7 linked regions of the Homo sapiens genome follow. The protein of the gene in region 1 purifies or fractionates together with the protein of each later gene. This does not show direct contact. Each region holds a gene or a part of one and is shown in the gene's direction. Other genes may lie near its edges.

What was found.
Region 2: the proteins of RNH1 (region 1) and SMS fractionate together in Homo sapiens (co-fractionation; one large-scale study listed by BioGRID). This does not show direct contact.
Region 3: the proteins of RNH1 (region 1) and ZNF282 purify together in Homo sapiens (affinity purification with mass spectrometry; one large-scale study listed by BioGRID and IntAct). This does not show direct contact.
Region 4: the proteins of RNH1 (region 1) and ZNF846 purify together in Homo sapiens (co-immunoprecipitation; one large-scale study listed by IntAct). This does not show direct contact.
Region 5: the proteins of RNH1 (region 1) and SLC25A13 purify together in Homo sapiens (co-immunoprecipitation; one study listed by IntAct). This does not show direct contact.
Region 6: the proteins of RNH1 (region 1) and GSPT1 fractionate together in Homo sapiens (co-fractionation; one large-scale study listed by BioGRID). This does not show direct contact.
Region 7: the proteins of RNH1 (region 1) and LRBA fractionate together in Homo sapiens (co-fractionation; one large-scale study listed by BioGRID). This does not show direct contact.

Annotation. Positions count from the first base shown.
Region 1 is NC_000011.10:499,692-504,254, reverse strand, and holds part of RNH1 (ribonuclease inhibitor), read left to right. Parts: intron 1-2,005; 5' UTR 2,006-2,092; coding exon 2,093-2,193; intron 2,194-3,600; coding exon 3,601-3,771; intron 3,772-4,255; coding exon 4,256-4,426; intron 4,427-4,563. UniProt on the Homo sapiens protein: Ribonuclease inhibitor which inhibits RNASE1, RNASE2 and angiogenin (ANG). May play a role in redox homeostasis. Required to inhibit the cytotoxic tRNA ribonuclease activity of ANG in the cytoplasm in absence of stress.
Region 2 is NC_000023.11:21,978,709-21,982,208, forward strand, and holds part of SMS (spermine synthase), read left to right. Parts: intron 1-168; coding exon 169-258; intron 259-3,500. UniProt on the Homo sapiens protein: Catalyzes the production of spermine from spermidine and decarboxylated S-adenosylmethionine (dcSAM).
Region 3 is NC_000007.14:149,197,876-149,202,438, forward strand, and holds part of ZNF282 (zinc finger protein 282), read left to right. Parts: intron 1-457; coding exon 458-877; intron 878-4,563.
Region 4 is NC_000019.10:9,761,840-9,766,402, reverse strand, and holds part of ZNF846 (zinc finger protein 846), read left to right. Parts: intron 1-1,367; 5' UTR 1,368-1,452; coding exon 1,453-1,467; exon of another isoform or gene 1,468-1,593; intron 1,594-2,941; exon of another isoform or gene 2,942-2,994; coding exon 2,995-3,121; intron 3,122-4,234; coding exon 4,235-4,321; intron 4,322-4,563. UniProt on the Homo sapiens protein: May be involved in transcriptional regulation.
Region 5 is NC_000007.14:96,182,116-96,186,678, reverse strand, and holds part of SLC25A13 (electrogenic aspartate/glutamate antiporter SLC25A13, mitochondrial), read left to right. Parts: intron 1-1,664; coding exon of another isoform or gene 1,665-1,667; coding exon 1,668-1,752; intron 1,753-2,243; coding exon 2,244-2,402; intron 2,403-4,563. UniProt on the Homo sapiens protein: Mitochondrial electrogenic aspartate/glutamate antiporter that favors efflux of aspartate and entry of glutamate and proton within the mitochondria as part of the malate-aspartate shuttle.
Region 6 is NC_000016.10:11,870,504-11,875,066, reverse strand, and holds part of GSPT1 (eukaryotic peptide chain release factor GTP-binding subunit ERF3A), read left to right. Parts: intron 1-1,895; coding exon 1,896-1,948; 3' UTR 1,949-4,563. UniProt on the Homo sapiens protein: GTPase component of the eRF1-eRF3-GTP ternary complex, a ternary complex that mediates translation termination in response to the termination codons UAA, UAG and UGA.
Region 7 is NC_000004.12:150,263,415-150,267,652, reverse strand, and holds the end of LRBA (lipopolysaccharide-responsive and beige-like anchor protein), read left to right. Parts: intron 1-1,840; coding exon 1,841-1,931; 3' UTR 1,932-3,218; downstream 3,219-4,238. UniProt on the Homo sapiens protein: Involved in coupling signal transduction and vesicle trafficking to enable polarized secretion and/or membrane deposition of immune effector molecules. Involved in phagophore growth during mitophagy by regulating ATG9A trafficking to mitochondria.

The DNA of each region.
Region 1 (4,563 bases):
TTTGCGCGTCGCCTGAGCGTGGCCCGTGTCTCCCTAGAGGGTGGCCCCGCGCCCCCGTCACGTCGGAACATAAGGACCTGAATTGGCCTCCAGACGGCCCCTCCCATGTGGCTCCCCAGGGTGGGGCCCAGGCCTTGGGTGCTGCGGAGACCTCCCTCCGTAAGGTTGAGAAAGTCTGGTCTCCGGATAAGGGACCGTTAGGGCCTCTGTTCAGATCCCTGCCTCAACCAAAGCAGGCTGCCAGCTGGTGGTAGTGGGTTCCTGAATGTGCTTTTAGCTTTGGCTGTGTAGGGAGCCAGGGACTTCTCCAGTCACAGAGAAGGGCGTTTACTCCCGCATTTTCATGGGGTCCTCAGTGGGATCCGTGACCCACAGAGATTCAGAAGGGCCTTTCTGGGATACAACAGGGTCTGGCCAAGCCTGAGGGGTAGGGACGGGGCTACTCCCGCAGCGCTAGTTGCAGATGGTCACGGGAGCACTGGCCACCCTGAGCTCCCACCAAGCTTTCCCAGGAGGAGGACACCCTGGGGCCACCTTTCATCTGGCTGCAGAGGACACAGGAGTGTCAGGCTGGATTTGGGGAGCGTGTGCACCCTGGGCAGCCCCCTGAGGCTCTCCTTCCACCCGCCCTCCCGCCCACAGTGCCTCCTGATGACTAGATTCTGGAGTCAGAATTTGGGTGACCACACCCTGGTCGGTTTTGCTCACGTGCTTCGGGTCGGTTGGATTCAGTTCCTCCATGTGGGGCCGTGGGATGTCACCACCCTTTGCCACTGTCCTTGCAGGCCGGGCGCCCAGGCGTGTGGACCCGAGCCCAGCCTTGCGTCTTTCCTCCCAGTTGGTACCAGGGGCCTCTTGCCTCCACTCATGCAGAGTGGACCAGCCGCCTCTGAAGCAGCCCCGGGGAGAGGAGTGCCAGGCACACAGACTCAGGAAGCTGGGGGTGTCAGGGCACCAGGAGCCTCTCAAGCGGTCCTGTTGGCCGTCTTTCTGAAGGGCAGCTGGGGTTGCATCATTTCCCCAAGTGGATCCTGCCAACTTTCTGGGGCTTCTGGATGAGAGCCCTCTCCCCACCCCACCCACCCCTCCCCGCATTGTGGCATCAGTGCTGCTGCTTCCAGGGAGCCTTCCTGGCCATCCAAGCCTCCTCTCCAGGTTCCTGCCCTGCTGTAGTCCCCAGGCCAGTGCTTGGCAGGTGCTCAGGGAATGTATCCACCAACCAAGGTTTGGGGTGGCTGTCTCTGCCTGACCACTTTCCCCAGGCCCCTGGCGGGTACCTGAGCTGTGCTCTCAGGGCCTCAGGAACCTCCTTCCATATTCAGGGCCTGTGCCTGGGGAGGCTTCAGGGTGTAGCAGCTGTGCCCATCCCAGGCTGACCCACCCAGCTTGCCTGGTAGCCCAGCCTCTGGGCTAGTGTGCCGTGGGGCAGGGGATGTGCTGTAGCCTGGTGCAGAGTCCCCAACCCCAGAAGGGGGCCATGGAAGCTGACACCCCAAGTGGCCGCCCCCCTGCTCTGTCTTGCTTCGGACACTGTGGCCGGGTCCAGGATCCTGGCATCCTGGGAGGTCTCTGGCTTTGTGGGCAGCCTGCCTGGCCCGCACAGTCTGCCTGTCCTGAGGGTGAGACACAGGTCAAGCCCACAGACCCCCTTGCTCCCCTGCTGGGGCCTCCAGGCTCACAGACCACCCCACCCTACCCTGTCCTTGCCCAAGCAAATGAGAGGCAGGGGCTTCCCGGGCTGCTGCTGTCCCGCCCTCTGTGGGGCAGGAGGAGGTGCCCACAGAGGCTGGGTGGTGATAGCCAGGAGATGGGCTGGCATCTGCATTACCCAAGCTCTGCTGCCCATGGTGGCCTTTCTGGGGGTGGGTGCTGGTCCCTGCCCCCTGCCCCACCCCTGATGTCTGCTCCAGAGACAAAGGTGGGGAGGGTGCTGAAGAGGAAGTGTTTGCCCAGGGAGAGGCTGCGGCTCCTCCTGAAACATCAGCCCTGTGGGTCCTGTTTGCAGAATCTCCGGCCTGTGAAACTGTGAGGGGATTCGGCCAAGACGTCCTCTTCCCTCTGCCTCCCACCCAGGCCACTCTTCACCTCCACCATGAGCCTGGACATCCAGAGCCTGGACATCCAGTGTGAGGAGCTGAGCGACGCTAGATGGGCCGAGCTCCTCCCTCTGCTCCAGCAGTGCCAAGTGGTCAGGTACGCTTGCTCTCGGGGTGGCCTTGGGGTGCTGGTGGGGCAGGCTGGCGGGTGGCGGCTCCCTCTGAAGGGTGCATTGCTCTGGAACGCCTTGTTTGTGGACATGAAGTATGAATTCTGTGCAGCTACCACGTGCATGAGATGTGATTCTTGTGTTTCTTTTTGACAATTTAGGAATGTAAAACCCATTCCAGGCTCATGCAGCATGGGCTGAGGTGGGCGGGCCGAGGTGGGCGGCCACTGGCCAGTGGGTCTCTGGCTCCGGTGTCTCAGCTCCTCTCCCTCCCTTGGAGACACGAGGGCAGGACACAGCTTGGGTCCCCTCCGTGAGCCTCCATGGGGCGCTGCTTGTCCCTGCCAAGCTGGGGGCTGGGAGTCCTCGGCCCTCGAGGTCCTCACAAACCCAGCAGCTTCACAAGCAGGACACGAGTGCCTGGGTGGGCCGCATCTTTTCTCTTTTTACCTGGTGATTTCAAGTAGTGTCAGGTTTGCGGAGGAGTTACGAGGACCGGACGGGGCTCCCTGGTGAGGTGGTCCTGTGTACCTGCGGACGCTAGCTCTGGCCCAGCACCTCCAGGCAGGGTCTGCTTTTCCGCCCTGCCCTTTTCGTCTTCCTCACTGGTCCAGGATTGCGTGGCCCTCAGCCCTCTGTCTCCTTAGCCCTCTCCCGTCTGTGACTGTCCCCTCGTCTCTCTGGGTTCTTGGTGGTCTGAGGGTCTGGCCAGGCTCCTGCAGGACGTCCTCTGTTGGGGCTTGTCTGGTGGTTTCTTGTGGTTGAAGTCCTACAGTTTTGGCAGGAATGCAGGGAGATGCCGTGGGGCCTGCCAGGAGCGTCCTGTCACAGGCGCCGTCTGCCACCCTCTCCACTGTGACGCCACTGCCTTTCCTCCTGTGACTGATCAGTGCCTTCGAGAGATACTTTAAATTCTTTTTATTTTTAGAGACAGGGCATTGCTCTGTCACCCAGGCTGGAGTGGCTCCCTCATGGCTTATGCGGCCTCAACCTCCTGGGCTCAAGTGATCCTCCTGCCTCAGCCTCCCGAGTAGCTGGGATTATGGGCATGCGCCACCACGCCCGGCTACTTTTGTATTTTTAGTAAAGACGGGGTTTCTCCATGTTGGTCAGGTTGGTCTTGAACTCCCGACCTCAGGTGATCTGCCTGCCTCGGCCTCCCAAAGTGCTGGGATTACAGGCGTGAGCCACCGCGCCTGGCCACGTGCGAGCATCTTAAACAAAACTTTCATGGAACAGTTCCTCCTTTTTGTTTCATTTCTGAAATGTCTTGTGTGACTTGCCTTGCTGTCTTCTGGGCCCACTGATAGGTTGTAACCTGCACGTGGGGTGGTGGTGGAGGCTGAGGCCAGTGCTGTCTGCGTGGTCCACATGACCCTGGGGTCTGCTCACAGGCTGGACGACTGTGGCCTCACGGAAGCACGGTGCAAGGACATCAGCTCTGCACTTCGAGTCAACCCTGCACTGGCAGAGCTCAACCTGCGCAGCAACGAGCTGGGCGATGTCGGCGTGCATTGCGTGCTCCAGGGCCTGCAGACCCCCTCCTGCAAGATCCAGAAGCTGAGGTGAGGCGGGGCCTGGCACTGCCTCTGGCCTGGTGCAGTCTGCTTTGGTAGCCCGGCAGCAGGGGACAGAGCCGCCAGGGGCGCGTGGGCAGCTGCAGGTGGACAGGCAGTGGCAGCAGACATTTCCAACATCAGCCAGAGGCACACAGGCCTGGCGGTCTCACAGCGGGGGGGACAGGGCCCTTCCTGCCTTATCCCAGCCCCCGCACCCAAGATCTGGCCCTGCCCGCCATCCCTAGCCTTCCAGCATCACCACAGACCCCCACTGAAAGGTGTGTCTGCAGACAAGGTTTCCCTGGGTCGAGCCACATGCGTGCCCTCCTTCACTCGGCCTGGAGACCCCAGACCCCAGAGCCCCGTCCAGGGAAGGAGCAGGTATAGACCTGCCGCCTGAAGAGTGCTGCTCCGGGCTCTGGGCTCTGGCAGGCGAAGGGCGTGGCAGCTTGGCTCAGGGGAGCCCTGCTGACAGCCAGGTATGCTCCAGCCTCCAGAACTGCTGCCTGACGGGGGCCGGCTGCGGGGTCCTGTCCAGCACACTACGCACCCTGCCCACCCTGCAGGAGCTGCACCTCAGCGACAACCTCTTGGGGGATGCGGGCCTGCAGCTGCTCTGCGAAGGACTCCTGGACCCCCAGTGCCGCCTGGAAAAGCTGCAGTGAGTTTGTGTCCTGCCCCAGGGCCCATGCTGGCCGCTGCCTGTCCCCCAGCCAGCCCCCTACATAGAACATCGCCTGCCAGGAGCCGTGAGGAGGGGACTCAGGTCACAGGGGCCTTGTGGTGCTCTCCTTTCCC
Region 2 (3,500 bases), on another chromosome or scaffold:
GAGTGTCCTTAGTGTGAAAATAAAGTCACTGCCTCATTCATCATTTTGTTAAATTTGTGATACCCAAGTTAGTATTATAAAACCTTTGTTTGTCTTAATCCTTTCTTTAAAGTATTACTATTTCAGAATTCTTTGATATACCCAAATTCTCCTTAACCTGTTGCGGACATTGACCAAATGGTGATTGATGGGTGTAAGAAATACATGCGAAAAACGTGTGGCGATGTCTTAGACAATCTTAAAGGAGACTGCTATCAGGTAATTGTTTTCTGGATAATGTAGTTTTAAGTGAACTAATAATATAAGTTATTGATCAGAATTGTGCCTTATTAAAACAGCTTTTAGTATAGTTGGTTGAGAAGATAAATACATCATCTGTCTCTTCATATGAGTTATATGTATATTTGTATTTAGGGTGCACACGTACCAATGATGGGAAAGCACCAACTCCAGATTCTCTGAATTAAATAAAATTAATTCTTTTTTTTTTTATTATACTTTCAGTTCTACGGTACATGTGCAGAATGTACAGGTTTGTTACATAGGTATACACGTGCCATGGTGGTTTGCTGCACCTATGAACCCATCATCTAGGTTTTAAGCCCTGCATGCGTTAGGTATTTCTCCTAATGCTATCCTTCCCCTAGCCCCCTACCCCCGATCGGCCCCGGTGTGTGATGTTCCCCTCCCTGTGTCCATGTGTTCTCATTGTTCAGCTTACACTTAGGAGTGAGAACATGCGGTGTTTGGTTTTCTGTTCTTGTGTTAGTTTGCTGAGAATGATGGTTTCCAGCTTCATCCATGTCCTTGCAGAGGACATGAACTCATTCTTTTTTATGGCTGCATAGTATTCCATGGCATATATGTGCCACATTTTCTTTATCCAGCCTATCCTTAATGGGCATTTGGGTTGGTTCCAAGTCTTTGCTATTGTGAATAGTGCCGCAATAAATATACGTGTGCATGTGTCTTTATAGTAGAATGACTTATAATCCTTTGTATGTATACCCAGTAATGTGATCGCTGGGTCAAATGGTATTTCTAGTCCTAGATCCTTGAGGAATCGCTACGCTGTCTTCTACAATGGTTGAACTAATTTACACTCCCACCAACAGTATAAAAGTGTTCCTATTTCTCCTCATCCTCTCCAGCATCTGTTGCTTCCTGACTTTTTAATGATGGCCATTCTAACTCCAGCTTGGGCTGCAGAGCGAGAATGTCTCAAAAAAAAAAAAAAATCTTAATAAAAAAAAAAACCTTAATAATAATAATAAAAAAGAAACCTTAGTAGTAAAAATCAAGTAGTACACAAAGCTAAAGATTGCTTTTACATATGTACAAAATTTCCAAGTAAAATAATAAGCTAAATCTGGCAAATTAAGTCTATATTATGCTCAAGTAGGATTTAGTTAGAAGTGTAAAGATTTCAATTTTAAGAAATCTGTCAACTTAATTCGTTAGGTGAATAATTTAAAGGAGGAAAATAACAGATGACAAAGAATTTGAGAATATTTAGCAGTCATTTTAAATAAAAACTAATGCAGTATAGCCATGTAAAATTAGCCAGGTGTGGCGGCGTGTGCCTGTAATTCCAGCTACATGGAAGGCTGAGGCAGGAGAATCGCTTGAACCCGGAAGGTGGAGGTTGCAGTGAGCTGAGATTGCACCACTGCACTCCAGCCTGGGCAACAGAGGGAGACTGTCTCCAAAAAAAAAAAAAAATATATATATATATATATATATATTTCCATCTAACAAATCTGTACATGTACTTCCTGAATCTAAAATAAAAGTTAAATTATAAATTACTTGAATAAAATAAAATTGCAATAGAGATGAAACTACCTGAACGTTAATAGAAACTTAGGTTGTGGTAAATAGAAAAATAGAAAATATAATAGATAGCAAAAGCCATTTCCACTGAAAATAGGAAGAAGATGAGGATGCCTATTATCTTTTTCAACATTATTTTTTGAGGTAGCTGAGATAGTAAAGTAGATGAAAACAGTATAAATCTAATTATTTGTAGATGATGTGAATACTAGAAAATCCAGGAAACTTACGTAGGAAATTATTTGAATTAATGAGAATTTGATAAAGTGATTGGATAAAGCCAGCCTAGATTTTTTCTCTATACTAAATGCTAACTCATTTAAATAGGATTTCCTTCCCACCCATTTCCTTTCAAAGTAATCAAGTGTTAAATTCCTAGGAATATATTTAACAAGAATGGTATTGTGAGACTGGTATGAATTATGTTAAGATGTTATTGAAAGACATCAAAGTCTGAATATGTGGAGAGGCATGCTGTATTTCTTGTATTGAAAGAACAGGCCGGGCTTGGTGGCTCACCTGTAATCCCAGCACTTTGGGAGGCCGAGGTGGGTGGATCACTTGAAGTCAGGAGTTGGAGAACAGCCTGGTCAACATGGTGAAATCCTGTCTCTACTAAAAATACAAAAATTAGCCCGACGTGGTGGTGGGTGCTTATAATCCAGCTACTCTGGAGGCTGAGGCAGGAGAATTGCTTGAACCCGGGAGGTGGAGGTTGCAGTGAGCCAAGATTGCACCACTGCACTCCAGCCTGGGTGGCAGAGCAAGACTCCGTCTCAAAAAAAAAAAGGAACAATGTCTATTCTTCCCAATTTATTATGAGTAATCCCAAGGAGGGGGGAGGGGTTTAAAAGTAGACCAACTGATTTTGAAGTTGATTTGTAAAAATAAGTATCTAAGAATACCCAAGAAAACTTGAAAAAAGAATCATAGTGTGAAGCGAAATATGTCCTATTTGTTGTTAATGTACTATAAGGCACGATAATCAAATAGGAAGTATGAAAGGAATACACAAGGACCTAGGAATGTCAAAGGAACTTGAACAGGTCTGAGTATGTATTCCTACACACTGCTAATATGGTCTAAGATACATTTCAGTTGACTTGGGAAAAGCGTTAGTTGAGTTAGTGTGTGATGCCGGTATAAGAAGTTATCCATCTGCATGAGAACCAAGTTAGCTAACAATAGAAATAGGAATTTTGGTGACTTAGGCTCTAAATGTAAAAACTAATACATTTAAGACAATTTAGAGTACTTAACCTTGGAGTTCAGAAATCTCTTAAAGATAGGACACTCAAACTGTTAATGGTATTATAATGTTGTCATTACCAAGCCAAAAGTCAGACTAGAAGAAAGACTAGTAACAAGCATGACAGGGAATTGATCCCTTGAATAATGCAGAGTCCCTACAACTTAGAAATGAAGTTAGCTAAATTTAAAAAGGTATAGAGGATATTTACTGGTACTTCTCAGAATAAGTCAAATAACCTGTAAAAAGTACCACAAGACAGGCCGGGCGCGGTGGCTCACACCTGTAATCCCAGCACTTTGGGAGGCTGAGGTGGGCGGATCACGAGGTCAGGAGATCGAGACCATCCTGGCTAACATAGTGAAACCCCGTCTCCACTAAAAAAATACAAAAAAAAATTAGCTGGGCGTGGTGGCGG
Region 3 (4,563 bases), on another chromosome or scaffold:
TTTAAGGCAGAGATCATCATTCTTGCCCTAACCTGCTGAGAGATTGCTGGGAAGATTAGCGTCAGCTAACTTACATCAAAGTTCTTGGAAACATAAAACACTAGGCAAATACAAAGTTCGTCATTAAGGCTAGCCCTTGAAGAAATCAGTTGGTCTATTCAAAGAAAGTGGCCTGTGACATTTTAGGCAGGGGTTGCAGCCTTAACTTGCTAAGGGTCAATGTGGGTGAACCAGTGACCAGCCTGACTCACCTAGGCAGGAGATGGGAGAGTGTTGAGTTGGGTGGGTGGGTGAGTGGGTAGCTGTTGCTGGGGGTGTTAGTGTATCCTGAGTTACGGGGGCCTGGCAGAAGAAAGACGACATGTAGCATCTGATTAGTTGACCCCTGTTCCCAGCTGACTTCCCCGGCTCACACAAGGTCTCATCCTGGGTTGTCGCTTTCTCCCTCTGCATACAGGCTCAAGAATGGGACATGGACGCCCGGCGGCCAATGCCTTTTCAGTTCCCACCCTTTCCAGATAGGGCACCTGTCTTCCCCGACCGCATGATGCGAGAGCCCCAGTTGCCCACAGCAGAGATCTCACTCTGGACTGTGGTGGCTGCCATTCAGGCTGTGGAGAGGAAGGTGGATGCCCAGGCCAGCCAGCTGCTGAACCTGGAGGGGCGCACGGGGACAGCCGAGAAGAAGCTGGCCGACTGTGAAAAGACGGCCGTGGAATTTGGGAACCACATGGAGAGCAAGTGGGCCGTGCTGGGGACCCTGCTGCAGGAGTACGGGCTGCTGCAGAGGCGGCTGGAGAACTTGGAGAACTTGCTGCGCAACAGGAACTTCTGGGTCCTGCGGCTGCCCCCGGGCAGCAAGGGGGAGGCCCCCAAGGTATGTGGTGGTCCCTGGGGCAGGGATAGAGGTGAGGAACAGCACAGGTGCATAAAATTCTTGATTTCATTTTGTCAGCCCTTCTCATAAACTTCTCTGGCTCCCCGTTATCCAATTTCAGTGTCTTCTTAAAGCCTGTCTCCACTGAAACAACCTGGTCTTGGACGTTCTACCCCAGCAAGGCTCACTCCATTCATTCCCCACAGTCTGCATTTCTGTCTGGGAGCCTTTGCTCTCGCTGTTCCTAGACCCCTCTGAGTTGTCTGGTTGTCTGCAAGTTCTTGCAGCTCTTCACTCCTTGGTTTTCCCACTTGACACCTACCAGCGATCATGTGTCATTGGCTGTCTTGGTATATGCTCACCGGAATGTGGCTGGAGTCGCACCTCAAACCAGGCTGCCTGGAGTTGCTTTCAAGTCGTAGTCACTTATCTCAGGGGGGCCCTTCTTAAAGTTCAGAATGCACACTCCGTATCTTACTCCGTTCCCTCTCCTGCTTTCCTCCCGGATCCTCAATGCTGCTTTTCAGTTCACTGAGAGAACGGAGTCACCCAGAAGAGGCGTCCACATGCAGCCAGCTTGTTCTTCCATCTGCTGCTCGGTGGCCACAGACTCTGCTTTCCCTTGTTCCTGTGGCTTGATGTCCCCTGCCCACCCCAGGAGGTCACCCCCAGCGTCTCTCTCCTTTCTCCTCTGAGTCATCAGCTCTCCCCCCTCTGCTGGGCTATTCCCACCAGCATGTGACTGTTCTGTCCTGCTGTCCGTCTTTAACAGAAAACCTCCCTGGGCCCTGCATCTACCTGCATTGGTGCCTCATTTCTCCACTCCTCTTTAGAGCAGAACCCCTTGAAAGAGTTGTCTATACTTGTTGTCTCCAATTCTTTCTTCCCCATTTTCTCTCCTTCCCTCCCTTTTCCCCTTCTCTTTATTATAGAATATTCAAATAAAAATAGACAGAATAGTATAATGGGTCCCCATGTATCCAAATTCCAGCTGCATTAGCTGCTAACTCTTGGCCAGTCTTGTTTCACCTAAATCCCTGCCCACTTCCCCACTCCCATTTTATTTTGAAGCAAACCCCAGACATTAGTCATTTCCTTTGCAAATATGTCAGTATTAGCTCAAAAGGTAAAGACTCTTTTTTTTTTAAGTGATAATCTCAATGTTATTACCACCACCACCATAGTAAAAGCTTCAGCCTAGATCACTGTCTAGCCAGTGATTAGATTTTCAGTTGTTTCAATTTTTAAAAACATTTTTTTAGTTTGAATTAGGATTCAAGTAATGTCCACACATTATGTTTGAGATGTCTCTTAAGTCTTTTTTAATCTGCGGGCATCTCTTCCATCTATTATTTTTCCTTTCAGTTTATCTGGAAGGAATTGGGCCACCTGTCCTGTTTTGCATCTCGCTGTCTGGATTCCACTGATTACGTCCCCTGTGGTCTCATTTAACATGTTCCTCTATTCTCAGTATTCCAGTTGATTGGTAACTGGATCTTTCTCTCTGGAACGCACTCTGATCAGGCCTTTGCTCACTAATGATGTCCGTGGTGTTACAGCCAGTGGTTGCTTCTCAGTCTTCATCCTCCCTGTCCTGTCAGCAGCATTGTGTGTAGGTGACCACTCTCTCCGTGAAACCCCTTGCCGTGGCTTCTGGGACACCTCTCTCTGCTGAGTCTTTTCCTACCTCACCAGCTGCTGTGTCTCATTGTTTGCCAATTTTGCCTCCTTTGGCCAGCTTTCTAATGCATGGAGTGGGCCAGACCTCTGTCTTGGCCTTTTGCTCTTTATTTACTCTCCTCCCTCATGACTGCATCCCGTCTCACAGTCTTTATTATTTATTTATTTATTTATTTTTTTTGAGACAGAGTCCCGCTCTGTTGCCCAGACTGGAGTGCAGTGACGTGATCTTGGCTCACTGCAACCTCTGCCTCCAGGGTTCAAGTGATTCTCCTGCCTCAGCTGCCCTAGTAGGTGGGATTACAGGCATCTGCCACCATGCCCACCTAATTTTTTGTATTTTTAGGGGAGACGGGGTTTCACCATGTTGGCCAGGCTGGTCTCGAACTCCTGACCTCAGGTGATCCACCTGCCTGGGCCTCCCAAAGTGCTGAGGTTACAGGCGTGAGCCACCACGCCCAGCTAGTCTCACATTATTAAAAGCAATCTGTATGCTCTCACCTCCCAAATAGATGCTTTCTCTCCCCTGCTCCCTTTCTATATGTTGCCCAGCTTTCTTTCTGGAATGCCAGATTCACATTCCTACCTATTAATTCATTTGGATGTCAGTAAATCTTAGATTTAACATGTCCAAAGTGAACTGCGGATCGCCTGCCTGAGACCTGTTCTACCTGAAGTTGTCCTCATCTCCGTTGATGACGGATGGTTCCATCCTTTCAAGTGCTCAGGCCAAAGCCTTGGAGTCATACTTGTCTCCTCTCTTTCTCACACCCTACTTCCAATCTATTAGTAAATACCCTGATTTTTCTTCAGAATATATCCACAACCTGGCCACTCCTCACCACCTCCACTCCCATCGCCATCGTCTGGTCCCAGGCACCATGGTCTTTCATCTGATTTTTGCCATGGCCTCCTGGTGGGTCTCATTGTCTTCATCCTTGTCCCCCCACCCATACAGTCTATCTCAACACAGCAGCCAGAGTGATCCTTTGAAAATGTGAAGCAGTCACATCACACCTCTGCTTAAACCTCCCAAATGGCTGGGCACGGTGGCTCACGCCCATAATCCCAGCACTTTGGAAGGCCGGGCAGGTGGGTCATGTGAGATCAGGAGTTCAAGACCAGCCTGGCCAACATGGTGAAACCCCATCTCTACTAAAAATACAAAAATTAGCTGGGCATGGTGGCAGGCACCTGTAATCCCAGCTACTCAGGAGGCTGAGGCAGGAGAATTGCTTGAACCTGGGAGGCAGAGGCTGCAGTGAGCTGAGATCTTACCACTGCACTCCAGCCTGGGTGACAGAGTGAGAATCTGTCTTAAAAAAAACCCAAAAAACACCTCCCAAATGGCTTCCCATCTGATTAGAATAAAAGCCCATGTCTGTTTATGGCCCACGCTCTCTTCCCCTGCCTCTCTGACCTCCTCTGCATCCACTCCCTCCTGCTCACTCCCATCTGTGCTGTTCTGCCAGCACACCACGTGCGCCCCCAGCTCAGGGACTCTCCACTGAGAAGCTCCTGCCCTGAATATCTGCATGGCCGTCCTCGCCACCTCTTCCATCAGGGTCTGCTGAGGTGCCACTTCATCAGCATGCCCTTCTACAACCATCCTATATGAAAGAACCACGTCCCCCAAGCACACTCGTCTCCCTGCCCTTACTCGAATTTTCTACAAAGCACTTTTGCCATTGACATCTTAAATATTTAAGATATGCTTCTTTTTTTTTTTTTTTTTTTTGAGACAGAGTCTTGCCCAGGCTGGAGGGCAGTGGTACAATCTCGGCTCACTGCAACTTCTGCCTCCCAGGTTCAAGCGATTCTCCTGCCTCAGCCTCCCGAGTAGCTGGAATAACAGGCATGTGCCACCATGCCCGGCTAATTTTTCTTTTTTTTTTTTGAGACGGAGTCTTGCTCTATTGCCCAAGCTGGAGTGCAGTGGTGCGAACTCGGCTCACTGTAAGCTCTGCCTCCCGGGTTCACACCATTCTCCGGCCTCAGCCTCCCAA
Region 4 (4,563 bases), on another chromosome or scaffold:
CTTGCTCTGTCACCAGGCTGGAGTGCAGTGGCGCAATCTTGGCTCACTGTAATTTCTGTCTTCCTGGTTCAAGTGATTCTCTTGCCTTAGCCTCCCGAGTAGCTGGGATTACAGGTGTGAGCCACCCATTTTTCTTTGTATTTTTAGTAGAGATGGGGTTTCACCATGTTGACCAGGCTGATCTTGAACTGCTGACCTCAAGCGATCTGCCCACCTCGGCCTCCCAAAGTGCCGGGATTACAGGCGTGAGCCACCATGCCCAGCCTCTGTGGCATATTCTTCAGCAAAGATATGAACCAAATCACAGGTGGATGAACACAACAACTTGGGTGCACCTCACCAGCATAATGCTGACTGAAAGAAGCCAGACACAAAAGTATTCTTACTGTCTGATAGTTGCTAGGCAAAGTCAACTAGAGTATTTTTTCTTTTATTCTTTGTTTTCATATATGTGTATATATATATATGTATATTTATTTGTTTATTTATTTATTTAATAAAGAGACTTGGTCTCACTATATTGCCCAGGATGGTCTCTAACTCCTGGCCTCAAGCATCCTTCTACTTCAACCTCCCAAAGGGTTAGGATTACAGGCATGAGCCACCCCCTGGACAATTAGAGTATTAAGTGTCAGAATAGTATTACAATTGGGAGGCATGCCATGGAAAAGACTATGTCTGCAATGCAGGGTATGGAAATGCTTTATTTGTTTGTTTGTTTGTTTGTTTTGAGATGGAGTCTTGCTCTGTCACCCAGGCTGGAGTGCAGTGGTGCAATCTCGGCTCACTGCAAACTCTGCCACCTGGGTTCATGCTATTCTGTTTCCTCAGCCTCCCCAGCTGCTGGGACTACAGGCACACGCCGCCATGCCCAGCTAATTTTTTTGTAGCTTTAGTAGAGACGGGGTTTCACTGTGTTAGCCAGGATGGTCTCGATCTCCTAACCTCGTGATCCACCCGCCTCGGCCTCCCAAAGTGCTGGGATTACAGGTGTCAGCCACCGTGCCTGGCCTACTTTTTTGTTTTTTAAGATGGAGTCGCACTCTGTCAGCCAGGCTGGAGTGCAGTGGCATGGTGTCGGCTCACCGCAATCTCCACCTCCCAGGTTCAAGTGATTCCCCCACCTCGGCCTCCCGAGTAGCTAGGATTACAGGCATGCACCACCACACCTGGCTGGTTTTTTTGGATTTTTAGTAGAGACAGGGTTTCACCCTGTTGGCCAGGCTGGTCTCAAACTCCTGACCTCAAGTGATTCGCCTACCTTGGCCTCCCAAAGTGCTGGGATTACAGGCATGAGCCACCATGCCTAGCCTGAAATACTTTTTCTTTGATGTATCCAACTGACATGCCATTATTCTTTTCCAAAGGTCATTTTTTCCAGGACACTTTCTGTCTTCATGACAGGAACATCGAGAAGCCAAGGCTAGTGGCTGGGTTACTGATGGATTACTGATGGATTCTTCTCAGGCAAGTGGAAAGCAGACCTAACTTCAAAATGTTATGCTTGTAGCCATCATCGGTAGCCTTACCTTGTTATCGTGTATTCAAGCATCTTAAAGAAATGATGGTCCTGCTCAGGAAATAACTCCCCAGGTGAATTTCTCTAGGAACCAAGCCATCTCAGGTTGTACAGAGATTGCAATGGAAGTGTATTGCGGGATCTGGCCAGCAGCCCACAGTGCAACGGGGCTCTCTCTTTGTTCCCAGGCAGATTGGCAGGTTGAGAAATAATAGACACACACAAGATAGTGAAGGCTGGGTCCAGGGGGGTCACCGCCTTCTGGTCCCACAGTGCCAACAATGCACTGGATATACCAGCAGTTATTATTAAGCTTAGTGAGGGCGGGGGTAGGTTAGTGAGGGATTTAGGGTCATTTGATTATGAGGTGAGATGGTCACATGGGGATGAAGTAATTCTTTAACATAACATTTGTATGTAGAAGTACAGTACATTTGTATGTAGAAGTACAGTATACAGAGACAAGAATTTAAAATATAGTGTGTGTGTCAGTAATTTCTAACAGAGCCTTAAAACAGAAACACAATCTTTCCATAACCTATGATTAGCAAGATATTAATCAGCAGTAACAATTGCCACAAATGCTGGTTAGAAACAATCCATGGAAACAGGATGTGAAGCTAGACAACTGGTTAGACCAGAAGTTCTCAGAAGGGAGTATGCCTTAACTTTAAAGAGGCCTACAAGAGCCGTGACAAGATGAGGGCGTTTATCCATATGGACAGGCACCCCCCATGCATCTGTTTATAGGCTCTCCACAAGGGTCGCATTCCATTCCCAGAGCTATGAACATCTGCTTTTCTGGGATAGGAATCTTGGTGATGTGAAACCTCCCTGACTGCACGTCCATTCATAGGCTCTGTGCAGGGGGAAGCACATCACACGCTGTTGGCTCATTCTGGCAGTCCAACCTGGCATTGTCTTTACACAATCCTGCATGCAATTTTGTATTTACAGTAATCAGGAGCATTTCATCTTTTATTCTGTAGCAATAGTTTCAGTGGGTCTCCCTACAGAAATGATTATTTTATCTCAATGTTTACTAATTCTTTCTGATCCTCAATCATGCTTGTTGGCTCATTGTTTTGCTGAGTGTTATGACAGATTGTAAGAAAGGGATGGAGATGTCTAATCTGAAGGAATTTGTGTGTCACTGTGGAGATAATTCATTTGTTATTAGATTTTACATAGTGCTGCAACATATTCAGTGCAGACTGCACCTATAAATAGAGGAGGACTAAGGCCAGAAGAGCCCATTGTAAAGCTGTAGGAAGATCAGTTTAGTCATGTTTCAGTGATGCTGATAAGTCCATGGGATTGGATGCCATTGCAAGACAATATCTATATAGAGGAGAAGAGGCCTGAGGCCTGGGAGTACTGCAGGCTTCTAGTCTTCCTTAGTCCTTCATGCATTTTTCTCAGAACATCAAAGGAGATGGTACTTAGCTGAAGCTGGCATGTATTTAATGGTTTAGCACTTAGTGACCTTTGAGGATGTGGCTGTGGACTTTACCCAGGAGGAGTGGACTTTGTTGGATCAAGCCCAGAGAGATCTCTACAGAGATGTGATGTTGGAGAACTACAAGAATCTCATTATACTAGGTAAAACTGGCATCATTTCTTCACTGACCCCTTTAGGAAATCAATGTTTCTTAAATGTTTGCTGTCAAATGAGGGTACTGTAATAAGCAAGACAGGCATGGACCTTGGCCAGTGGACATTCCTTTTTTTTTTTTTTTGAGACACAGTCTGGCTCTATTGCCCAGGCTGGAGTGCAGTGGCATGGTCTCTGCTTACTGCAAAGCCCCCCCTCCTGGATTCAAGTGATTCTCCTGCCTCAGCCTCCCAGGTAGCTGGGATTACAGGTGTGCACCACCATGGCCATCTAATTTTTGTATTTTTAGTGGAGACAGGGTTTCACCATGTTGGCCAGGCTGGTCTCAAACTCTGACCTCAGGTGATCCACCTGCTTTGGCCTCCCAAAGTGCTAGGATTACAGGCGTGAGCCACCATGCATGGCCTGGGCATTACTTTATAGAACAAGCTTGTAAACTTTCTTAAAGCATTATGAGATTTATGCACAGACCAGTTTTTTTGTTTATTTGTTGTAGCTCATCAGCGATCGTTAGTGTTAGTGTATTTTATATGTGGTCCAAGGCCATTCTTCTTCTTCCAGTGTGGCCCACGGAAGCCAAAAGATTGGACACCCCTGGTGTAGAGGATTCCCCATGAAAATAAAGATTTAAGTAAATGAGTTTATTTAATGTATGGATTAAAAACTTTAAGACTTTAAATGTGTATGAAGTTGGACTTGGTTTTCCAGGCTCAAGCAATTCTTCTGCCTCAACCTTCTGAGTAGCTGGGACCACAGACCTGTGCCAGCATGCCCTGCTAATTTTTGTATTTTTAGTAGAGAGGAAGTTTCACCACGTTGGCCAGGCTGGTCTTGAACTCCTAACCTCAAGTGATCTCCCTGCCTTGGCTTCCCAAAGTGCTGAGGTATGAGGCATGAGCCATTATACCTGGGCAACATTTTTGTTATTTTAAAAATAGTTTTAGTGCATGTATTGGAAATGTTATATGATTAGTTTGCTATTTGTAAAGTTACACTTGACCATCTTTAGAATCCCCGAAGGCAAAAGTATTGGTTCCCCATTGAAGGACATGGTGTTATGTCTTGCATGGGCCTCTTCTTTTGTGCATTTTTCCCTCCAGCAGGGTCTGAATTATTCAAACGTAGTCTCATGTCTGGATTGGAACAAATGGAAGAGCTGAGGACAGGAGTGACAGGAGTTCTGCAGGGTGAGTTCATAAGCAGATGTGGTATTATGGCACTGCTGTGCCACCCTAGGAGACATGCAGTACATTGGAAATGTTACTTTGCGAACTTCTCAGGGTATACTCTTCTTCCTGAGAAGGCTGAGGCCATTTGGTTTCCTTAGATACTTTCAACTCCCCTCATCTTTAAATTTCCATTGATCTTCTCAACCTCTTTTCTGTTCTCAGAAAGGTTTGTCTGCCTTATTTGAAAATTCCATCTTATG
Region 5 (4,563 bases), on another chromosome or scaffold:
ATCAAATATTCTTTTACAGTATCATTTTGAATGATAGGGTTTTGTTTTAAAGTTATTATTTTTAAAGGCTATAGTCCTCCGTTATTGGACATTTAGAATATTTCCCAAATTTTTGTTCTTTTTGTTTAAAGAGCAAAAATTTGGGAAATAATCGAAATTTCCAATAAGTACTACAAATGTTTTTTAAGTGCTACATTCTTGTAGCTTGTTACATGCATGATTATCTTCTATCCTAACTTTTTTCTTTTTGAGACGGAGTTTCACTCTTCTTGCCCAGGCTGGAGTGCAGTGGCGCGATCTTGGCTCACTGCAGCCTCCGCCTCCCAGGTTCAAGTGATTCTCCTGCCTCAGCCTCCCAAGTAGCTGAGATTACAGGCATGCGCCACCACGTCCGGCTAATTTTTTATTTTTAGAAGAGACGGGGTTTCTCCATGGTGGTCAGGCTGGTCTCGAACTCCTGACCTCAAGTGATCCACCCACCTCGGCCTCCCAAAGTGCTGGGATTACAGGTGTGAGCCACTGCACCCAGCCTATTCTAACTTCAGAGGTTATGTACATTTTAAGGGTTTGGGTGTATATTACTAAACATCTCTCTATTTATGCTTGCTTTAATGGCAAATTTCAGAAGGCTTGTTATCAACTTTTGCCAGGCTGGGTATTGCCACTTAAAACAAAAACAAAAATACATACAAACCAAAAACCTGCCAATTTGATTGATGAAAAATGATGTCTCATTGATGTTTTTATTTGCTTTATTTACTTTATTTTATTTTATTTTTTTGATACAGTCTCACTCTGTTGCCCAGGCTGGAGTGCAGTGGCGCGATCTCGGCTCACTGCAAGCTTCACCTCACGGGTTCACGCCATTCTCCTGCCTCAGCTTCCCAAGTAGCTGGGACTACAGGCGCCTGCCACCACACCCAGCTAATTTTTTTCTTTTTTTTGTATTTTTAGTAGAGACGGGGTTTCACCATGTTAGCCAGGATGGTCTCAATCTCCTGACCTCATGATCCACCCACCTCGGCCTCCTGAAGTGCTGGGATTACAGGCATGAGCCACCGTACCCGACCTATTTTTATTTTTGAGATAGAGTCTTGCTCTGTTGCCGAGGCTGAAGTGCAGTGGCGTGATCTCAGCTCACTGCAACCTCTGCCCCCTGGGCTCAAGTGATTCTCCCTCCTCAGCCTGAGTAGCTGAGACTACAGGCACATGCCACCATGCTGGTCTAATTTTTGTGTTATATTATAGAGATGGGCTTTCACCATGTTATCCAGGCTGGTCTTGAACTCCTGTGCTCAGGTAATCCGCCCGCCTCAGCCTCCCAAAGTGCTGGGATTACAGGCGTGAGCCACCGTGCCTGGCCTCAGTGATGTTTTTAACTGTGCATTTTTTTTAATGAGAATTTGAAAATAGGCTTATAACATCATTTTTGTCAAAGGATGGTTTTGATTATATTGAAATTTGGTTTTAAACATTAATAGCACTAAAATCTTTTTATTAATAAGAACTTATGAAATCCATTCCTACTTTTTTCCTTGACATTTTAGTTGTATCATGGATTTAGAACCCAATGAGTAATGTTTAAAGTTAATGTATGGTCATTTTTGTTTTATCTTCTTTTCTGTCACCTGTTTTCCTGCTCTCTGATTCCTGTGCATGCAAAGCAGAAGGCCTCAGGTGATTCAGCTCGACCAGTTCTTCTACAAGTTGCAGAGTCGGCCTACAGGTTTGGTCTGGGTTCTGTTGCTGGAGGTTAGTCATGGATGAGAGAAAAATTTTCACTTTTGTTATTCCTATTCTCTTTTCTCTGATTTTCCATCTTGAAATGTTAAAGGACAAAGTCTTCTCTAGTCTTTCCCAATGCCAGTTATCAGTTTCTACCTGTGAGGTAGGGCAAGAGTAAAGGGAACTCTTTTCCCATACCTGCATGTGATCAGGGACTTACAAGTGGCATTTTCCTCTATCTACAGATCAGGCCTTCCAAAGACAGGTTACTAATGAGGTTGGGCTGTAGCAATGTGCCTTAATTTAAAATATCTATGACATCCTTTTATTAGGGGATACTTGAATGAAAACCCTCAATTGTTTATTAAAGATATAAGAAAGGTAGTACTGTTTTAAAATCTGTATTTAAAATTCAAAACACATTTCTTTTCTCAGTCTTGTCCTTGACTTTAACTACCTTCTTCTTTCTTCTGACCTATCTTACTTTCTTCTGAGATAATGATATTGTTTAATTTTAGCTGTTGGAGCCACTGCTGTGTATCCTATCGATCTTGTAAAAACTCGAATGCAGAACCAACGATCAACTGGCTCTTTTGTGGGAGAACTCATGTATAAAAACAGCTTTGACTGTTTTAAGAAAGTGCTACGCTATGAAGGCTTCTTTGGACTGTATAGAGGTTAGTGCCACATGCTCAATACCTGTTAGGTGAAATAACACTCAAAGGTTTGGTTTCTCATCTTAGTGCCTGACATGAATTAGCAAGACTGCGTTAAAATGGAAATACAGCAGATTTTCAATTATCCATGCTAATGGGAGTAGGCTGGAGGCATCTAGGGCTTGGCTAATCAAAACAGCCCATAATCTGAAAATTATTTATAGTGCTCTGTTGTATGTTTTATTTCTTAAAATAATAAATTATTTTTATAAGCATCTTCCGTGAATTTTTGAAAGGCTCACATTGTTTGCATCCTTGAAGTACTCTATTCTCCAGCTAACAGGGAAAGGTATTCTGCCACCAGGACAAAGCCTACTCAGGATTCATGATTTTCCTGGAATACACCACAAAAAAGATAACGAAGGGTTCAGTAGAGCTCTCTTTTGCTGCTTCATCCTGAATTAAAGTTGCCCCTTTTCTTCATCTGACTCTCAACCCAATGGAGTTGATTCACACACCCCTCTAGCCAAGGTTTCCCCCCACTGAGACAGCCTGAAACAGGTAATCCTTCTTTCTCCACCTTTTCCTTTAACCATCTAAGGTTCATTAAGCAATGGAAGTAGTAGCAGAGAGTATGTCATCACTGATGGAAAGGATCCCACAGACCCTGACTGCTTTTCCACTGGCATTGGCCGAAGGAGACTTCTCAACTGTTCTTTCGGGGATTGCCTTCTACGAGAAGGAAACAGTGTTTCTGCATCAGTTAAAATACAGTATCACAAGGCAGTTCAAACTCAGCTGCTTTATAATTTGGCAGCGGCAAAGCTGGCAGAGTTTTCCCTCCTCTCCCCTACTAATGCTCTCTCTAGATGAAGAAAACAGTATTTAGTACTCTGCTGAGGTGGACGGTGAAACTGGCAGACATGGAAACCTGTGCCTCTGGGCCTCTTCTGCCATCTGCTGACTCTAGTCTTCAAATTAATTACCCCAGTTAAAAAAAACAAAAAGGATAAACCTTTCTTGAAACCTCTCACCTTAGAAGCCAGAAAGTCTCAAACTCCAGAGAAGTTCCATTTTGCAGGTCCTATTGTGTAGGTAGGTAGCCCCCATCAAAGGCCTTTTGATCTTTGCTCTGCCCTCTTTTCCTTATCCCCTGCCTCTTCTTACAATTTGGAAGGTCTTTGACCTCAGGTGATTGATGATGACCCTTTCAGGGTCACTGCCTTCCATTTGAAATGCTTTTCTTCCCTGATGGCAACAACTTTGCAAATGAAATGGCTTCCAAGTAGTACAAGGTTAATGTCACAGTTCCTATTCTGCAGTGAGTCAGGCAAAATTGGCCGCCTTACCTGTCCATATGGGTGGTTTTTGGAAGGGAAATCTCGAGTCTCAAGTCTGGGCAGACATCTGAGCATTGCTTCATAAACTACTTTTTGGGCTTTTCTTGGTATTAGATTAAATGTCAAGGATGCCTTTAGAATTGTAAGAATGCTTCCCAACACTGCTCAGTGTCTTTAATTTGCTTAAGTTGATTTTTTATTTTGAGTCCTTTTTTCTCGATCTTTGACCATACCTGGCAGGTCTGATTTTTGGTTACGTCTATATTTCCCTTTTGCAACCTGTACTGTTGGCAACTAGAAGTGTGCCTGAGTACTGAGTGCTGAGCTAATGTGGGCTATGCAAAGAGGCTTCCACTCTTGCCGTTTCAGTTCTTTTATCTGTAAGATGAGAGTGACTGCTTTTAACTTCTCAGAGGAGTAGTAAGTCAATATATTAGGTACAGACAGAGGCTCACTGTAAACACCCAAGTGGCAGCTCTTCACCCTTTTCCTGGTTTAGAAATGGCCATTTATCTTTGGGTGCCCCAACCTTAAGGGCAAGAGACAGAGCTGTCTGTCAGGATGATGAGTAGAGTGTGAATATAAGATTAGTTCTAGGAGTCACCTGTGTTCATTTCTTCCTGATATCTTTTCTGGTAAACCATTTTAAAACAAAAAATTTACTGTAAAATTTTTGTTTAGTCCCATTCTGTAATTTGGATCATCTTGAGAGCAAAATGATGACTGACAGTTCAGGTTAAAATAATAATGATACATAACTTTGCCATGAAAATGACTTGTTCCTATTCTTGATTGGTCAGGGATCAGTTCTCTTTAGTTTCTTGTACATCATCAATAATTAA
Region 6 (4,563 bases), on another chromosome or scaffold:
TAGGTGCTGCCACCATGCCTGGCTAATTTTTTGTATTTTTGTAGAGACGGGGTTTCACCACGTTAGCCAGGATGGTCTTGATCTCCTGACCTCGTGATCCGCCCGCCTTGGCCTCCCAAAGTGCTGGGATTACAGGCGTGAGCCACCGTGCCCGGCCCAGCTGTTAATATTTCTAACTTAGATAACCATTTTAAGACTATAGAAGACTTTACATAAAACTTTATAGTTCCATTGAAATACAGAATAGTCATTTCACATGTTCATTCCAATTCCATTTAGCAAAAACTACTTTGTATCTACAAAGTGTCAGGAACTGTGCTAAGCCCTGGTGATGAATACAGTTCCTGAACTTTACATTGGATGAAATTGTATAAAGACAGTGTTTATTTTACTTTAAAGGCCCAGAACTCTTCTGGTTGATAGTAAAACTGGTTATTGGGTTTATCTTATTAATATAACAAAATGATAGTTTTAGTTTACCACTCAGAACCTGATAAAATCAGGAAGACAGAAGAAAAGCAATTAATGTAGCAGGAATTCTTAACCCTAGAATTATTTTTTCCTAAAAGCTAACTTGGCTTTAAAAAAAAAAAAAAAAAAAAAAAAAAAAAAGCTAACTTGGCTTTTAGGTTTTCCACAAGACCCAATGGGTTTTGTATCCTTTCAGTCCACAGGATTACTACCAGAAGGACGTGTTCACTGCACTGTAGTCAGTGGTGATTGCTGTGCCTTTTCACAGTTACTTAAGGATAGGTTTTGGGATTTTTTTTTTTAGCAGCTTTATTGAGATACAATTTCCATAATATGAAATTGACCTGTTTTAAGTATGTAATTCAATGAATTTTAGTATGTTTACAGAATTGTACAACCATCACCATATACTAATATTAGAACATTTAGAACACCTAAAAAGAAACCTTACACCTGTTCATAATCACCCCTTATTCCCACCTCCACCCCAGGCAACCATTTTTCAATTTGTCTTTTATAGACACTCCATAAATAGAATTATAAATTATGTGGTCCTTTGTCTAGTTTATTTTACTTAGTGTGATTTTGAGGTTCAACCATGTAACATGTTATTTATTCCTTTGTATCACTGAATAGTACTCCACTGGGTGGATATTCCACAAATACGGATATTCCCTTTTCTTATTTTTAATCCAAAGAGGTTTTTTGGCCCAGTGTGGTGGCTCACCCCTGTAATCCCAGCACTTTGGGAGGCCGAGGCAGGCGGATCACCTGAGGCCAAGAGTTCAAGACCAGCCTGGCCAACATGGTGAAACCCTGCCTCTACTAAAAATATAAAAATTAGAATGGGCATGGTGGCAAGCACCTATACTCCCAGCTACTCAGGAGGCTGAGGCAGGAGAATCACTTGAACCCAGAAGGAGGAGGTTGCAGTCAGCTGAAGTCGCACCACTGCACTCCAGCCTGGGTGACAGAGTAAGACTCTGTCTTTATGCAGTGGCTCATGCCTGTAATCCCAGCACTTTGGGAGGCTGAGGCGGGTGGATCACCTGAGGTCAGGAGTTCAAGACCAGCCTGGCCAACATGGTGAAATCCCGTCTCAACTAAAAATACAAAAATTAGCTGGGCGTGGTGGCAGGCATCTGTATCTCAGCTACTGGGGAGGATGAGGCAGGAGAATTGTTTGGGGGGTACGGGGGGAGATAGGTTTTTGATACAGGGAACCATCTCTTTACCAGCCCCCCCAAATAAGACCCTCTTATTAAGACTACCTAAATAGAAGTATCATGGGTTTGGCAGTAAAGCTAGTTAATTAGTAACTTACATTGTAAAAAATATTTTTGTGATTTAAAATAATAAGTTTTAATATCTTATATAGACTTGCTGTTAACTACTGAAAGATTTTTTTAAAATTTCATTTCTAGGTAAGACCATTGCAATTGGAAAAGTTCTGAAACTGGTTCCAGAGAAAGACTAAGCATTTTCTTGATGACCCTGCACAATACTGTGAGGAAAATTGACTGCAGAAGCCTACTTCACACCGCCTTCTCTTATTTTCTGCCCATTGATAAACCTCTCCCCATATTTTGCAAAGAGGAAATTCACAGCAAAAGTCCACATTATGTCAGCTTTCTCATATTGAGAGCTCTGCTATGCCACTGTTGAATTTTTCCCAAGATTCCTGTCCCTAGCCCTCACTTCAAACTCTGCTTCCTTGGACAGATTTGGCAATAGCTTTGTAAGTGATGTGGACATAATTGCCTACAATAATGAAAACCTACAGGAATTTTTTTATTTTTCATTTTCCCCTTAGGCATATTTAGTATTTTTCCCCCAGGCAGATCATTCTGAGTGTGCGAGTGTGTGTGCACATGTTACAAAGGCAACTACCATGTTAATAAAATATTCAATTTGAAATCCTTTTCGGTATTTGAATTGCTTTTGAATAATGTTTTTTATCTGGATGTAACATTGTTGCATTAGCTTTTTAACTTTCCCAAGTAATTGAATACATTTTATTACTTGGACTTTTATAAACTCTTTCCCTACCCACTATAAATGAGACATTCACAGCGTTCAAGTTTGTATTAAAGGAAAGGATTAGTTTGACCCCTTCTTTTGATGGTTAATGCATACATGCAGTTAAATCCCTTTATGCAAATGTGACACTGCTTTACTAGGTCTTTTAGTTATTTATTTATTTTTTTTTTTTTTGCCAATTTATATTGTAACATGATTTCTTGAACACAGTAAGTTGTTTTAAAATAAAAGAACAGCATACTGTAGTTTTTATAAGTAAAGCGTAATGAAATTGTACCCCTAGAGAAAATTCCATTAACTTGTTAAATTAGTGGAATTAACAACAAATAAAGCATGTTTGAGACCTGGCAAAAATTCCTCTGGTAGTATTTATAAATAGAGCTGCATGCCTCTAGTATGAAAACCGTATCAGTTGCAAGTGCCACTTCTACAAGTTACTCAGTTTACTCTTTGTATCAGTAACTTTAAAGGTTGGATGATCCTTGCTGGTTAAAGCTAAATCTCAACCTAGCAACTAAATGAAAATATTTAGAATCATCAGAATCTGAACAGACTAAAATTATCAGCGATAAGCAGAATCAAGCAGGGTATAAGTTTTATCTCAATTATTTGAAATTGACTGAGTTTTCTTAAGTGTAAAGCTGAAATTTGCTAACCATGTTTTTGATGAACCACAGTGCAGCATTGTGTGGGTTTTAGATTGAATGACTCTCTGCTATAATTATCATGACTTTGAAATTTTTCATGAGAATAAATGAGGAATGGAGGCAATTTGTGGGTTTATCCAAAGCCCCCTTGATGTTGAGTGTTGCCATTGATCAAAGATAGCCTCTTTTAGATTGTGATTTCTCTCTAAATAAGATACTTTGTATATTTAATGACAAGTCTCTTCCCTATAATTTTGCTCCTCAGAAAAGAAAAGCCTAGACAGACTGTATTTCCAGTCACAGAACATAAAACTTAATCTAATGGGTGTTTTGTTTTGTTTTGAGACAGAGGCTCACTCTGTCACCTAGGCTGGAGTGCAGTGGCTCGATCTCAGCTCACTGCAGCCTCCACCTCCCGGATTCAAGCAATTTCCTGCCTCAGCCTCTTGAGTAGCTGGGATTACAGGAGCCCTCCACGAGGCCCAGTTAATTTTTGTATCTTTAGTGGAGACGAGGTTTCCCCCTATTGGTCAGGCTGGTCTCAAACTTCTGACCTCAAGTGATCCACTCGCCTCAGCCTCTCAAAAGTGCTGGGATTACAGGCATGAGGCGCCGCACTTGGCCTAGTGTTTTCTTAACTGTGAAATTCCCATTCATTTCTTGAATGAGGCTACATCTTATGGACAGAGCAAAGTTATTGTCCTACAGATTCTTAAAACTATAATTATGGCTATTGCATGAAATTTAAATAGATTTTATTATGTCTGCAAATCTCTGGGCTTTTATTTTTCTGGAAAATATAGGAGCTTTAATCAAAACATAATAGTTCTTTTTGTAATTCCATGTTAATAAAAACAAATACTAGCAATTGCTTGAATTTTAATGAATATTTAAAAGTTCAAGAGCCACGGAAATCACTTCCAGAGATAAGAGTTCCCTTTCTAAATAGAACACATTTTTAAAAAATAAGTTATGTTTGCTACTAAAACATTTACACTGTTAGACTATTATGTGCATGTTGCCAAGACTCTTAAGTAACTTGGATATCAACTGTGAAGGGCCTACCTCTAAAAAGTAACAGGTCATACAAATACAAATGTAACTGTAAAAATTCCACTGGATTCTTGCATATTTGCAAGATTAGATTATTCAAAAGAAATTTCAGTGCTAAAATTAACCAGCAACATAAGTTCTATGGGCTTTGAAAATTGTTCTCATCTTTTTAAAGTTGATGCATTTTCAATCCTGCTTACACAGGCTGTTCATTTGGATAAGTAAATAAAATGTCTAAGGTGAACTTGGCATTATGTGGAGATGTTGGACCGTTATAGAGCAATACAAATTCCTATGCTGTCATTCTGTTTTCTGCAAATGCAAACGTGCTTATATGGTCAACAGTGCAAAA
Region 7 (4,238 bases), on another chromosome or scaffold:
TATTTTCTTCCTTCTGCCTAGCCTGGGGTTTTGTCTGTTTTCTAGTTCCTTAAGAGGTAAAGTTAGGTTATTGATTTGAGATATTTTTAAATCTATGTGTTTACAGCTAAAAATTTCCATTTTAGCATTGCTTTTGCTGCATTTCATAAGTTTTGGCTTGTTGTATTTCCTTTTCATTTGTCTCAGTATTTTCTGATGTCTCTTATGTTGTTGTTTGTTTTTTTTGACTCATCATTTATTTACTTTCCACATATTTGTGAATTTTCTAGTTTACCTTCAGTTATTGGTACCTAGTTTCATTCTATTATGATCAGAAAAGCTACTTTGTGATTTTAATCTTTACTAAGTCATTAACACTTGTGGCCTAACATATGGTTTATCTTGGAGACTATTCCATGCGCACTGCAAAAAAATGTATATTCTATTGTTGTTGGGAAGGTGTTCTATATACGTGTGTCAGGTCCAGTTGGCTTATCGTATTGTTCAAGTGTCCTGTTTCCTTATCTTCCACCTGGTTGTTCCACCCATTATTGAAAGTGGGGTATTGACGTCTAAAACTATTACTGTAGAACCATTTCTCCCTTCAATTCTGTTAATATTTGCTCTTTGTATCTTGGGGGTCTGATGATAAATGCATATATAATTGTTATATTTCTGTGAATTTACCCTTTTCTCAGTGTAGTGTCCTTTGTCTCTTGTAACAGTTTTTGACTGAAAGACTATTTTGTCTGATATTAGTGTAAGCCACCTCAGCTCTCTTTGCTAGTACTTACACGGAATATCTTTTCCATCCTTTCACTTTCAAGATGTTTGTCTTTAGATCTCAAGTGGGTCTCCTGTAGACAGCATATAGTTGGATCATGTTTTTTATCCATTCTGCCAATCTCTTCCTTTTGGCTGGAGAATTTAATCTCTTTAATGACTGATAAGGAAAGACTGACTTTTGCCACTTTTCTATTTAATTTTCTCTCTGCCTTAGAGTTTTGTCTCTCATTTCCTCCTTACTGTCTTCCTTTGTTTTTAGTTGATTTTTTTTGTAGTGACACATTTTAGTTCCTAATTAATTTTGATACGAGGTACTAGGAAGGATACTGAATATGGCTTCTAAGGGCTGGTCCTAACCAAACTACACAGAGAAAAATCTGGCTATGCTCAGTTTAGGTTCACCTATGTTCTCCATCTCTTTCCCTGCACCACCTCTTTGGGGACAGGAGACCAAGAAGCTTGCAGAAGTTCTTATCTTCAGTGATTTCGGTGAGTTACTGTGTTACGAGGACTAGGTCCTCACCCAGAGCATGATGGACATAGACTACTTCTCCACAGAGGGGAGACCAGCTTAAATTATGGTCAACAACACTCTTCTTTTTCACTCTTCATTGATTCTGTACCTGTCAGAGGTGGTGTCTCTTGTCACTTGAGTGTGTGCTGCTTCTTTCCACCAGCAGTTACTTTGAGATTGTGGTTCCTTCTTTTGAGTCTGTTGCTTATATAATGGATGGGTCTTGCCAGCCCAGTCCCCCTTTAGAAATTACCAAATCTGTTCAGATTTTAGTTACAAATCTGTTCAGATTTTAGTTACTCATCCTGCACATACCAGCTGTCCGTACCCTTTCAATGAAAAAGCAAGCTGTGGCTTGGATCCTTGTGGAGTGTCAGAGGCAGTACTCTGAGCTTACTCAGGGATACATTTTAGTCATGAAATACATACCTTAGTTCCCACAAATTGGAGCCTTCACTGCCAGCTTCTATATTTACCTTGTGGATTTGGGGAGAGCAGTTTTTAGTAACATCTCTAGGACACACAGGTTTGTAAAAGTCCTTCTCTCTGTGCTTCTCCTAGGTGCATCATTTCTGGCATGGCTTCAGGAAGCATTGTGCTATTTTACAACGACTTTAACCGGTGGCATCATGAATACCAAACCCGCTACTGATGGTGACAGCTGTACATCAACTCTGCCCCTAGGATGAGCAGAAGTACCTGGAGCATCATTCTCTTCTACCACATCTGAATGTAACTTAAATTTGCTCAAAGAAGCAAAATATTTTTTAAAGTTATTAATAATTGCTATTTTTGTAGTCTTTGCTTGACTTTTTTGGGGGGGATTAGCAAAGCAGAAAACTGGCTGCTGGGTTCTGTAGTTTTAAAAAATCTATATTTTTAGTCATAATGAGAAGTCTATTTTCACCAATTATGGAAACATACAGTGGAGCAAGTAAACCACTTATTCCAGCTATAATATTATGAAGAACATTTCCCATGCATCTACAAGCTTGAGAAATAGGATTTTCACAGTGGGGAAGTGGGTTACAATATTGGAATAGGAAAATTTGATGCTGTAATTTGGGTCCTGTATTTTTCCAAACAACTGTGCTTCTTCAGCACTAATATTTCTGGGATTTAAATAGTAATGTTTAAATTATGGTAAATGTAATTTAAAACATCTCAATTAAGTCTGTCTATCAATATTGTTCTTCAAGCATGTTTTAGACCTAGAAAAGTATGGTTTGGGGGAGGCTATTTTATTGTGTGGTTAGCACAAGGAATCTAATTTATAGCAAGTGTGAAATAGTTACCATTTTTTCCTGATCTGTCATCTTCATAGCACAACAAAACGAAATGATGGAAATGCTCTTGAGCTCACAACATTTGTTTTTCTTTTAAAGTAAATGCAAGTACCAAAGCTCACTACTGCGGTTTGCCTGTGCCTGGACAATGAGGCGGAGCCACTGTTGTTTTGTTGGGGCACCCCCTTCCCTCCCCGGGTTTGCAAATAGAGGCTACCGGGTGCTGTATTCAGCAACACCTGTTTTACTATTTGTTATTAAACTATCATCTCCACCTTCCTTTTGATTAGCAATTTGTACTAAGAAACGAAACAATGTTATTTGGTGGTGTATAATTCTACTTTTCTAGTAGATTACTGTGTGGAATTCTGTGAAAAATATTTGAGAAAAGGCCTGTATTGCATAAATAAATTCTTTGTATGTTGTGAACTTTGATCTCTATTTCTCTTGCAACAGACTTCAAGTGGTCCCTCTTTTTTTCCTACACACTCAGCTCTTCTCTAAAAGCAAGGATTTGGAATGAACAATTCAGTTTGACAGAAAAAGCTGAATAAAATGGCATCTGTAATTGAATTGTTGGAAATGCCTTTTTTGCTCCTAAATTTTAAACATCATTAATAAAATAATGATTCACAAAGAAAGAAAATGTCAAACTCTGATTCAGTCCTAGTTTTTGATCAATAACCAATGTGAGAGATCCTCCTGACTGAAAACAGGAAAATGAGCTTTCTTTGGCCAGATCTCTCCTCTTTCTTACTGAGACTCACACAAATGACCTAGACCTGAATCTTACAAATGCCTAGCAAGGAACTTTATGTACCACTTCATCTGAGATCCATCATTAAGAAAATAAATAGACGACGGTGAAATGTGGGGGAGGGAAAGTACATTTTAGAATCAAAGAAATACCCAAGTTGCTGATAAATTAATTAACTGATGAACATCTTCACTGTTTGTTTGTTAATGTCCTCATTAACTTGTGAATATTACTCTTTGAAAACTTCTTAAGTGAACAATGGTAAAAGAAAATACCAATACCTAAGTCGTGCCACACAAATGATACTTCAACCACCCTATGCTTAACAAGCCTAAAGCAAAGCTCCTCTTGAAACCTAAAAGGAAAAAAAAATCAGTATCTCCACTACCTTTATTGTTTTAAAAACTTACGACTAACGAAAATTAATTGAAACATAAGTTGGCCGGGTGCATTGGCTCACGCCTGTAATCCCAGCACTTTAGGAGGCCGAGGCAGGCGGATCACTTGAGGTCAGGAGTTCGAGACAAGCCTGGCTAACATGGGGAAACCCTGTCCCTACTAAAAATACAAAAAGTAGCCAGGCTTGGTGGTAGGCGCCTGTTAATCCCAGCTACTCAGGAGGCAGAGGCAGGAGAATTGCTTGAGCCTGGGAGGCGGAGGTTGCAGTGAACTCAGATTGTGCCACTGCACTCCAGCCTAGGCGACAGAGTGAGACTGCATCTCAAAAAATAATAATAATAATAATTAAAATTTAAAAAATAAATATTAAAAGAAACAATACTTCATGAAACAAATAAGGCTGGCATCAACACATGGGCTTCTTAATGACAGAATCTGTTCAGTAATAACATTTACAGTTTATTCAATATTTACTTATTCAATTTTAACTAACTCCTTAAAAAGGCTATTACTTTAC